Regions from separate parts of the Homo sapiens genome. Here region 2 is linked to region 1. Evidence: fine-mapped expression QTL. A gene starts in region 1. The other region holds a variant in brackets. All regions are shown on one strand. Distances are from middle to middle.

Region 1 (5,508 bases):
GCTCCTCAGAAGCCGCCCCTGGTCTTTTTCTCCCTCTAGTTCCCAGATCTATACATTTCTCTAGATTTAATGCTTGCCATGTAACACACACACACTTCCAGACTGGTTTTCCTGAGCAGACCAGGTCTGAGCCTTTTTCACTCTTGAATCTTCACTCAATAAATCCAGACCCTGCCCCCAGTGTCCTCCACTCCAGCATTTTATTTATTGGCAAAGAGCCAGGCTCTATCCAATGACTAGTAAGCCACTTCAACCATCCTCAGGCAACTTATGAAATTAAAAATCATAACTGGTGAACTATGTTGTCCTTACATAATAGTAATAACTTTTTATTTATTTATTTTAGAAACAGGATCTCACTCTGTCCCTCACACTAGAGTGCAGTGGCACAACCATATCTCGTTGTAACTTCAAATTCCTGGGCTCAAAGGATCCTCCCACACGTACCACCATGCTCAGCTAGTTTTTTAAATTTTTGTAGCGATGGGGTCTCACTATGTTGCCCAAGCTAGTTGCAAACCCCTGGCCTCAAGCGATCATCCTGCCTTGCCTCCCAAAGTACTAGGATTAATGCATGAGCCACTGCACCCAGGCAACTCACTTTAATTTATTGAGCATTCTTGTGCCTAGCACTGGTTTAAGACCTAAACATACAATATTCCATTCAATCCTCACAACTCTATGAAGTAGAGACATTCCTACCTCCATTTTACAAGTGAGGAAATTGAGGCACTGACTTCATCAAGGTTACCAAACAGGTCAGAACCCAGGCAGTCTGATCCAGGAGTCTGTATTCTCAGCTACTATGCTATTATGGACAGGGTGCTACAGGACACAGAAGGGCAATTAACCTTGGGGGTTAGGCGGAGGCAGCGCTGCCTGCGCTGAAAAACATGTAGAAGGTAGCCCAGCAGACAAGAGAAGGAGGAGGTTTCCAAGCAGCGGGGGCTGGTGTGTGCAAAGTCATGAAGATACGAACAGCAAGGGTAGGCATGGCGCATGCTGCAGTGCCGTATTATTGGACCTTAGGGTGCACACAGGAGACTGCTAGGTCAGATCACAGAGAGCTGTGTAAATTGTGCTAGGGGTTCAGCACATAGGCAATAGAAAGCCAGAAAAAGGTTATCAGCAAGGAACTGGCACCGTAAGACTTGTGTTCTAAAAGGATCACAAGAGTTACAGTTTGGAGACTGGGTTGCAAGCTGCCAGGGCTGGACTGTTGGGAATTGACAATACATCAACAGCGTGGTAACAGAAGAGATGGAGCTGGCCCAGGTTTGAAGGATGTTCAGGAAGTTGGCAGTACTAGGTCACTTTTAAGATGTGGGACTTGAAAGAGAGGAGAAAGTGTAAGGAAATTACCAGACTTCCGGCTGGGTTGGGGTAGAGGAAGAATTAATCTGCAAGGAAAAGACCAGTTCAAGTTTGGACCCAGTGAGCTCCATGTGAAGCAGAGCTGTCCCAATGGCCGCTGGATGGGCAAGCGTGGAGCTCCAGGGAAGGGCTGCGCTGAAGATGTGGATCTGGGTATTTAGTTGGTGTAAAGCTGAAGCCGTGGGGGAAAATAAGACCACTGAGATTCAGTGTACAGAGCGAGGGGTTGGGCGACAGAGGAAAACGTGAAGCGGGACTTTGACCGACTGTCAGAGCGGTACGAAGAAAACCAGGAGACATTGACTAACCCAAAAATGCGGGGTGAGGGAACGTGTCATTAGAAATGAGTGTCAATGGTACTATGCACCTCTAAGAACTCAAGACTTCAAAGGGCCCTTTTAATACCAATTAGGAAGTTATTCACGGCCGTTTCGAAAGGAAGTTGGGGAGACACGGGATGACACTGAGACGCAGAGCTACCGGAATGCGTAGATGTTTTCCTCTCACCCCAGATTCCGACCCCTCCCCATACCTGCCCCTGCTCATAACACCCAGACACCTCACCCTCTCCTCTCCCCTCAGTTAAGACGGAGGCTTTGGAAGGAGATCCCGAACGTCCTCCCCGGGCTCCCCAGGATAGGCGGGGTCGCCAAGAGTCATTGCTGGAGACCCCAACCCGCGCGGGGCGGCGCGAGGCCAGACAGAGGAAGGGGGCGGAACCTGAGACGCAGCGGGTGTGGGAAGGGTCGGACGGAACCCAGCACGGACAGCGGGCGGCGAAGCGGGTTCGACCGGCGGAAGACGGCCCTCGCACGCCACCCGCTCCCAGCGACCGCTCCGGGACCCACCTGCTCCATGTCAGCCACGGCCCCGGCTCTTCCCGCCCCAACCGCAGTCCGGCTCCGCGGCCTCAGTAGCGCCTCAGAGCGGAAGAAGATCTTCCGGCAGCGCCACTTCCGCCGCTGAGTCCGCCCCCGAGAGCGAAGCGGGACTTGCGTTCGCCTGCGGCCCCGCCCCTTCGCCCCGCCTCCAGCCCCGGCCCTGCGCAGAAGCGGACTCAAAGGCCGGAGTCTAAGGGCCTACCTAAGGGTAGGGGAGTGGGAAGAAGACCAGGGCCGTCGTTATTAGGCCACACAGGCCTGGCACTGAGGGAAAAAGGGGAATTTCCCGAGGGGAGTCCTGTGGGGATGGGGAAATCTTTGGAGGAATCCAGTTATTCGAGAAGGACTTCCCCACCCCACCTGCCTCCTTCAGCCATCCCAAGCAGCAGCTAGAACTTCTGTAGTTCTTCCTCTGAGTGCCCCGAGCCTGCTGTCTGCCAGAAAGACTCCTAGACTAGAGGATTGGACAGTAGGGTCAAAACCCTAACCCTTGGTTGACCACCGGCCTTCCCTATCAGGACGCCCCATTACCTCCCTTTTCCTCCTGCTTCCCCTGAAAGAGGAGTCTCAGCAGTTATTTACAAAGATTTATTACAGCACGGGAGGGGTTCAGGCCTGGAGTCAGGGAAGAAGGGGAAAGGGGCAGAGCAGCTGGGGGACAAGGAAAACCTGGCGCCCCCCGCTGTGTGCCCCACCGGGGACATAAACTAGGCGGCATTCCTGGCATCAAAGCACAAAACGCAACAAAGAGGTCTCTGCCAGTCCATCTTCCAGGCACCCAGGAGGAGCAAGGGTGATTAAGGGAAGATTCCCAAAATGTTGAGGCTATGGAGAAAAACGCCTTAGTCCTGGACCCTGGTAGAAGCCGGTGAGAGAAGTGGTGACTTGGAATCCTCCATAGGAAAGTGGGTAGAAAAGGATCTAAGGGTACCTCAAGGTTCTCAGGACCTCCTTTCCCCAGATCTTAGGGTCCTGCCCTGTGGGTCTCCTGTGTCCAGGGGAGAGGATCTGGGGAGTAGAATTGTGAAGGGCAAATCCCTGTTCCCGGTTTTCTGGATTTTCCAATGTGGGCTGTCTCACATCCCACCTCCCGCTGGGTGAATGGAGGAATGACTGGCAGGGGTGGGCATCAGGCAGCAAGTGCCCAGGTTCTCTGGGTATCAGCCAAAGGTGGGCAAACAAGCAAACACAGACCAGCCTTAGTCTTCTAGAAGTCAGAAGCCGCAGCCCTAGCAGGCGAGGGGAAGAGCACAAAACAGGGTGAGGATAGAGTGGGTTTCTGGGGAACAGCGATGTCCCCTCCACTTCCTCCTGGGAGATGCAGGCTGGGTGCCTATGTGCCAGGCTCAGAGGGGGAAGGGCGCTGAGGTTCCTCCCCAGGCTCTGAAAGGCAAGCAGAGAGGGACTCAGGGCCTGGCCCCACCCACCAAGATCCCAGCCCCTCCTCCCCATTTCACACTCCCAAGCCTTACCACTTAGTGCTGGGTCTTCCACTTGGTCCTCAGAGCCTCCATCTCTCTCGGACTCATCCAGAGGGGGTGGGCGCTCCCAGGGCCCTTCCAGACCCTGGCCACAGGTTGTCTTTTGCCCAGCTGGGGATGGGAAAGAAGAGATAAGAACACAGGCTCTGCGTATCCATCCGGCTGTCCTGGAGTGTGAGCTAAGTGTCTGATGGCTGAGGTTAAGCTTTCCAGGGGCATCATGGAAGCATGGAGAGAGAACTGGGCTAGAACAGCTCTCCCAGCAACTAGCCATATGGCTTACGTAAGTCAGTTAGTACCTTTCTGAAGGAAATAGAAAGGGGGAAATTGTGTAGATTACCTTAAACAAGATGTAATAGTGAATACCCTGCCCAGCCCAGCGCCAGCACCCAGGAGCCACTAGGAGTCGTGGTGGTTTATATTGCTCCATCATAGGACTATCATTTGACCCGGTGCCCTTCTGCATTTTTTGTTTGTTTGTTTTTTTTTGTTGTTTTGTTTTGGTTTTTTGTTTTTGTTTTTGAGATGGAGTCTCACTCTGTTGCCCAGGCTGGAGTGCAGTGGTGCGATCTCAGCTCACTGCAACTTCCACCTCCCAGGTTCAGGGGATTCTTCTGCCTCAGCCTCCCAAGCAGCTGGGATTACAGGTGTGTGCCACTGTGCCTGGCTAATTTTTGTATTTTTATTACAGATGGGGTTTCACCATGTTGGCTGGACTGGTCTTGAACTCCAGACCTCAAGTGATCCGCTAGCCTTGGCATCCCAAAGTGCTGGAATTACAGGCATGAGCCACCGCACCCAGCCACCTGCTGCTTTTCCTGAGGGAACAGTCTCCTCTCACCCCTCTTCCACTGTTTTGGAGGGGTCTCAGTGAGGACTGATTCAGGTCTTCCAGCTGTCTCTTGCCCACAAAGGGACTGAAGCCCAGCAACAGCTTTTGCCCCCATGGCCAATCTCTTCACTGCCAGATATGCAGGCAGGAGGCCCAAGGCCTTTTGTTTGTGTGGAAGAGCTGACAGCTTCTAGTAGGGGTGGTTGACTCTTCAGTATTCCCATAAATAATGAGACTAAAAAGGTTAATGGGCCGGGCTGGTTCTTGAATTTTAAATTCTACATCTAAACACTAGAGGGCACCCTCCCACTCCATCCTAGGAAGGAAAAAGAGGAGAAACAGACAACAGTCCTGGAGAGGGCAAGTAAATGAGGCAGCCCTCTGCACCCCAGCAGAGACCACATCCTAGGTTCAAAAATGTAGGTGAAATGCAGGTGACAGGGGTGTTGGACTCTCCTGGTCCTCCATCCCTGAATGTCCTCACGCCCCCTTACTGCCATAGGTGGGAAGTCCTCTTTTGGCTCTAGCCTCAAACCCCAAACGGCCTTGGCCTTAATTCTCAGGGAAGAGAGGAATTATTAGGGAAAACCTGATTGGGAGAGGGACTGAGCCAAGGATGGAGGAAACCCATGTCTCAGGTAGGGCTGAGTTCGGGGCACCCCATGGAGCGAGAAGACAGGGAGGCCCCTGTGGTGTCACTACAGTTTGCGTGTATGAGACACTGAACTAGAAGGGGACGTCCTCGTATACTCAAGGAGGACCCACAGCTAATCCACATGTCACAGGCCCCTCAGCTTACCAGACTGCCTGATGACCTTCAGGACTTCAGCCTGGCTGTCCTCTTCTTCTTCCTCTTCTTCATCATCCTCCTCTTCCTCCTCATCTTCCTCTCTTGGATAACCCAGCTCCCGAAGCTCCCCCAGCTCATCCTCCTCCTCTG
Region 2 (5,000 bases), 21 kb before region 1:
CAGGATAAACGTCTTGCCGTGAAAGGGAACTTCAATGGTGTACACGGTGTCCCCATATTCCTATGGCAGGGACAGAAGGTGGCAGGGAGGAGAGTGGAGGCAGGGGGTGGGCTGGTGGCACAGAAATGGGTGACAGGCAGGGCAGGTTTTTAACAGCTCAGGGTGGAAAACTCCAGGAGTTTGGGGACACCTGAGCAGCTGTTACAAAACAGTAGCTCTAACAAACCTATGGCACTGGCAGGAGAGAGGCTTTTGATGTCGAGTTAAAAGACGGGGGGACAGCTGCAGCTGCAACCACAAAAAACCATGTCTCCAGGCCAATGGGGCTGCCACAAGAACTGGCCAGAGAGAGGGACTGGGGCATGTTGCTCTCTGTTTTCCAAGCTCTCTACGATCTTTGTAGATAATGTTGTTTTGATCATGAAACGAAACAACGGATGCAGAGCAGAAGCCTGGCTTCCCCTTCAAAGCCTGGAGCCAAGGGGGCAGAACAGCAGGGAAGTAAACATGGGGGGTGCGGGGAAGGGGGGCCAAGGGGCACGGGGGAAACGTCCAATCCAGCCCAGCCTCCTGCCGACCCGAGGGCCCAGCTCCCTCTCTTGGGGCAGGAATATGGCTCCAACCCATGTAATCTTTGGGTTTCTTCCTCAGGCCTCAGAAAAGAGAACAGAAACTCCTAACACGCATGGGAAGGTCAGGTGGGAGAGGGCTTCTTACATTATTCTTCTCAAACTTCCAGTTCTCTTCCTGGGCCAAGATCTGGTCCACCACTGCCGTGGCCTCCTTCCCCTGGCGGATGTACTCCCGCTCCTGGACGGAAGCAGGAGGCAGGGAGGGGTCAGCCTGGGGCCTGCAGTCCACCATGTTCGTGGCCTGTTCTCTCTCTAGACATACCACATGCTTCCCAGAGGGGCCTGGCCCAGCCACATGTGGGATCTGGGCTGGTCTCCCTGGGCCCTGCAGGCTTGTGGCTGCTCCACCTGTGTGCCCAGGCATGAGGCAGACCAGGGGGGCCGGACTGGTGGTGGGGGAGACACTCGGATGGGCATTGCCCGAGGTTCAGCCTCTACTGGGAAACCCCTGCCCACCCCGGCTGACCCCTGCACCCGCCCTCCTCCAGGCACCCATTCCAAGGGCAGGGGTTAGGGGTAGGCAGGCAAATACCTGAGCAGAGAAACTTTTCTTCCCAGCAACTTCTTCATCTGATTCATTGTCAGACCCTGCAGAAAACAGGCACAGATGACAATGGCAAGGGGTGGGGAGAGAGTGTGGGGAGGTAGTGGGGTTCGGGTATGTGAGTGCAAGGATGTGGGGGATAAAAGTGTGTGGGAGAGGGTTGCTGGCTTTCCCCAGGGAGCCTGATAGAAGGAATAGAAAGAACAGACCCAGCCTACCCCATTCCTCACAAGGCCCCTCCCTGAAAGCAGTTCCCCCACACACCAGCCCTCACCTGCAAAGGATTCTGGGGGTGAATAGAACTGTCCCTCGGACAGAGCACCGGAGAACAGCAGGGGTCCACGGGCAACAGCAACCTGGGCGGCAAGATACCCTGGAGGAGCAGACTCGGTCCCGGACCGAGGACAGTTACACCCTAGCAGCCTGGGGTACCCCCACCCAAGCTCCCCCTCAGGCTACTGGAGGCTGCTCAGAGGTGGCGAGATGCTTCAGACTGACTCTCATGCCCGCAACTCCCCTCTCTTGGGGCTGTGGGTAACCCTCGCTGCACCCCCCTACCCGCAAGCACTCACATCGCTCCTCTTCAGCTTCCTGGGGTAGGACTTTGAAGTCAAGGAACCAGGTCTCCAACCAGGCGAGGACAAAAGAGACGATGGGGAGCAGGTAGCCAAATGCCCCTTTGCTGAGCAGCTGTGAAGGGAGGGGGCTGAGCTCCATGGCAGGGGTCACCCCAAACCCAGAGCCCCCTTCTGTGGCTACCAACTCTAGCCAGCCAAACTGGCATACACCCCATTCCTGGTAGCAGCTGCTTGGGAACCCTCTCAAGTCTGCAGCAGGATAAACTGGGGTTAGGCTGGAGAAAGAACCTTCTGATTCCTAGAGCTGCAAGGGGCTAAGTCAGGGAAGCGGGTGAAGGATGATTCCTTATAGATACCAAAGGACAGGATTCCCTCTCCCCCTAACCCGGACAACAGGGACAGACACCCCAAATTAGAGAAATGCTCCTCTCTAGAAGCATACCACTCAGGTCTGATGCCCACCAGACTG[G/A]CCAGACCCTGAGCCACTGACCTCAGAGAGGATGACCTTGACAATGAGGAATGCACTGGACACCAGCGTCGTGACCTGCCCAGGGGAGGGAGGGAGGAAGGGGAAGGCAGAGGCTGGGAAGTGAGTCCTCCTCCATCCCATCCCTTCCACCAGCCCTGCCAGGGCCCAGAAGCTGCCAGGAAAGTGGCATCTTACCGCAATCACCCACCAGTGCCGGAGCCGCAGCACGGCATAGCCTAGGAGCAGTCCAGAGAAGCGGAAGAAGGCCAGGACCTGGTGGGGGACGGGAGCAAGGCAGTCACAGGAAGCTACTGCCCCCCACCCTGCTGCAGGCTGACCTCCCCTCTGGTCCTGCCCCCACGTTCCCTTCCTATGGGCATGCACACCTCAGGGGACAACGACTGAGTCAGCATGTCTCTGGGACAATTTGGATGTAACCTTGCACAGGGGTCTTATCTTCCCTCTCCCACCTGGGGCTCTCTGAAGGGGGCTTTGTGGAGGAAAGGTTTTTTTTTTTTTTTGAGACAGAGTCTCGCTCTGTCGCCCAGGCTGGAGTGCGGTGGCACGGTCTCAGCTCACTGCAACCTCCGCCTCCCAGGTTCAAGTGATTCTCCTGCCTCAGCCTCCCAAGTAGCTGGGATTATGGGTGCGAACCACCATGCTCAGCTAATTTTTTGTATTTTTAGTAGAGGCGGGGTTTCACCATGATGGCCAAGCTGGTTTCGAACTCCTAACCTCAAGTGATCCACCCACCTCAGCCTCCCAAGGTGCTAGGATTACAGGCGTGAGCCACTGCGCCCAGCCTTGTGGAGCAAAGGTTTTAATGACTGATGGCTCCCGAAGGATGGGAGCCGAGTCTCTGATCAGACTGGATATATGCTGCCAAAAGAGAACCCAGCAGAAGTCATTTCCCTGCTCCCTCTCTGCCTCCGGGGTCCCCAGGATCAGCCAAGGCCACTCACAAAGATGTCGAAGAAGGAAGTTTTAAAGTTGTACTGGATGATCTCCTGCTCCAAGTTCTTACGGATGCCTGTGTTGGTCTGTGAGAGGGAGACAGGAAGAGCTCTGCAGGTAGAAGCAAGGGCCTGGGGCTGCCCCTCACCTCCCGGAAGGGGCAAGAGGTAGGGGATGGAGGAACCTGGAGGGGAGGCTGTTGATGCTAAGCCACCACCCAGGGGGCCCTGGAAGCACCAAGGGATCTCAGCCCACGGCCAGAGACCTCAGGCACCAATACCAGTCCTCTAAGGATCCAGGCCGCCCCGATGGGCAGGGCTAGCTTCCAGCACCCTGCCCAGGAAGGGGCAGGCTTGGAGGCTTCGGGGCTGTGCAGGGGAGGCAATGCGCCCTATACAGGGCCAGCAGAAGGGCGCCGAAAGCCCACCTCTGACAGAATCCCATCTCCCTCCCAGCACTGCGGTGCTCCATCTTCCCAGCCATAATCCATCTGGGCTGATGGGGGGTGGGGGTGGGCAGTGGTGTCAGACGGAGCCTCAGGTGGCAAATCAATTGATTAGGTTTATGCTTAATGGGCAAAATCCATCACGCTGCTTGAGAGGGTGAAGTGGAGACGGAGTGGATGTGTCCTTGCCCCTGTCCCTACCCCAGCCCACCAGACATTTTCACCAGGACCCCTGAGGCCTTGGCCCTGACTCCAATGTCCAGAGGTTTGAGGGAACTGGATGGACACCAGGCCAGACTGCGACCTGACTCCTTGGAATGACGGGGGTGACGGGCCTAGGCTCCTTCAGGTGGGGCACCAGCCACCCTGGAGAAGGGAGGACACAGGGACTCTGGGCGATGGAGCCCAGGAGCCCTGGAGAGGAAGACCCCTCACAACCGCCTAGACTGGGGCTTCCGCTCTCCAGCAGGGCAGCCAAATCTGGGGGGGCTTGTTAAAGATACAGATGCTCCCCCACTGAGCACACAGCCCCACCATGTGCCTCTTCCTCAAGCCCACCCCAGCTCCATGAAATCTGATGCCACCTCTCCTCTGGCTGCCGGTGAGGCCCCCAGGCCTGCCACCCACCCACCCCATCCCACCCAACCCACACCACCCAGCACTCCTCTTGCTCCTCAGACTCTGCCCTGGGCTCTGCAGCCCCTTCCACCCTCAGTCACTAGGCCTCAGAGCTCTGTCCTCCTTCCTCTTTCCAGCCTGGGCACCCACCGGTGCTGACCGATCAGGACTCGGGAGAGCCAAGTCTCAGCCCCTGCTTTGCCACTCTCTGGCTCCAAACCCCCTGCTCAGCACGACCCTACTGAGTCCTTGTAACCACTGGGCAACACAGACACAGTCTGTCAGCGAACTAAAAATATATGCTCCCAAATACAAAAGTAAAACTACAAGACTGAAAATCAATACAATTTTAATTAAATGTCTGCCAAGGGAAACATCATGTGGACTCTACTAATTGTTCAGTGCAGGATTCTGAAATGTTTCATGACATCTGAAAACAATTAGTAAGTTAGATCTTCTCACTTTGCAAGAATTCCCAGGTACGCATGAGGACTGCAGAGCAATCGCAGCCAACACAGCCAAATAACTTCAAAAGCACAATTACAGAGGCCAGGCACAGTGGCTCATGCCTCTAATCCCAGCACTGTGAGAGGCCGAGATGGGAGGATCACTTGAGCCCAGGAGTTTGAGACCAGCCTGGGCAACATAGTGAGACTCCATCTCTACCAAAAAAAAAAAAAATAGCCAAATGTGGTCATGCACCTGTGGTCCCAGCTACTGGGGAGGCTGAGGTGGGAGGAACCCTTGAATCTAGGAGTTG

The links. PIP is the estimated chance that this variant, and not a neighbour inherited with it, causes the effect.
Region 2: its variant is the best candidate, but not a certain one, in a credible set for the expression of STARD3 in whole blood (TOPMed, PIP 0.52).

Annotation. Positions count from the first base shown.
Region 1 is chr17:39,633,946-39,639,453 of GRCh38, reverse strand. It overlaps STARD3 (StAR related lipid transfer domain containing 3), which reads right to left and starts at 2,310. Exons shown (of 15, transcript NM_006804.4): 1 at 2,223-2,310. PPP1R1B (protein phosphatase 1 regulatory inhibitor subunit 1B) reads right to left here. Exons shown (of 7, transcript NM_032192.4): 5 at 5,368-5,508; 6 at 3,728-3,847; 7 at 2,830-3,638. The coding sequence ends at 3,589. LOC124903998 (a long non-coding RNA gene) reads left to right here and starts at 2,164. Exons shown (of 2, transcript XR_007065749.1): 1 at 2,164-2,463; 2 at 4,428-4,816. RefSeq lists enhancers at 1,639-1,758, 3,542-4,165 and a silencer at 2,299-2,368.
Region 2 is chr17:39,655,271-39,660,270 of GRCh38, reverse strand. STARD3 (StAR related lipid transfer domain containing 3) reads right to left here. Exons shown (of 15, transcript NM_006804.4): 3 at 3,186-3,263; 4 at 2,419-2,496; 5 at 2,245-2,298; 6 at 1,749-1,866; 7 at 1,451-1,549; 8 at 1,165-1,220; 9 at 718-810; 10 at 1-60. Among named protein-coding and RNA genes, the nearest start is that of TCAP, 7.6 kb to the left of the region's middle. RefSeq lists an enhancer at 1,180-2,055. The variant G/A (reference allele first, on the strand shown) is at 2,224.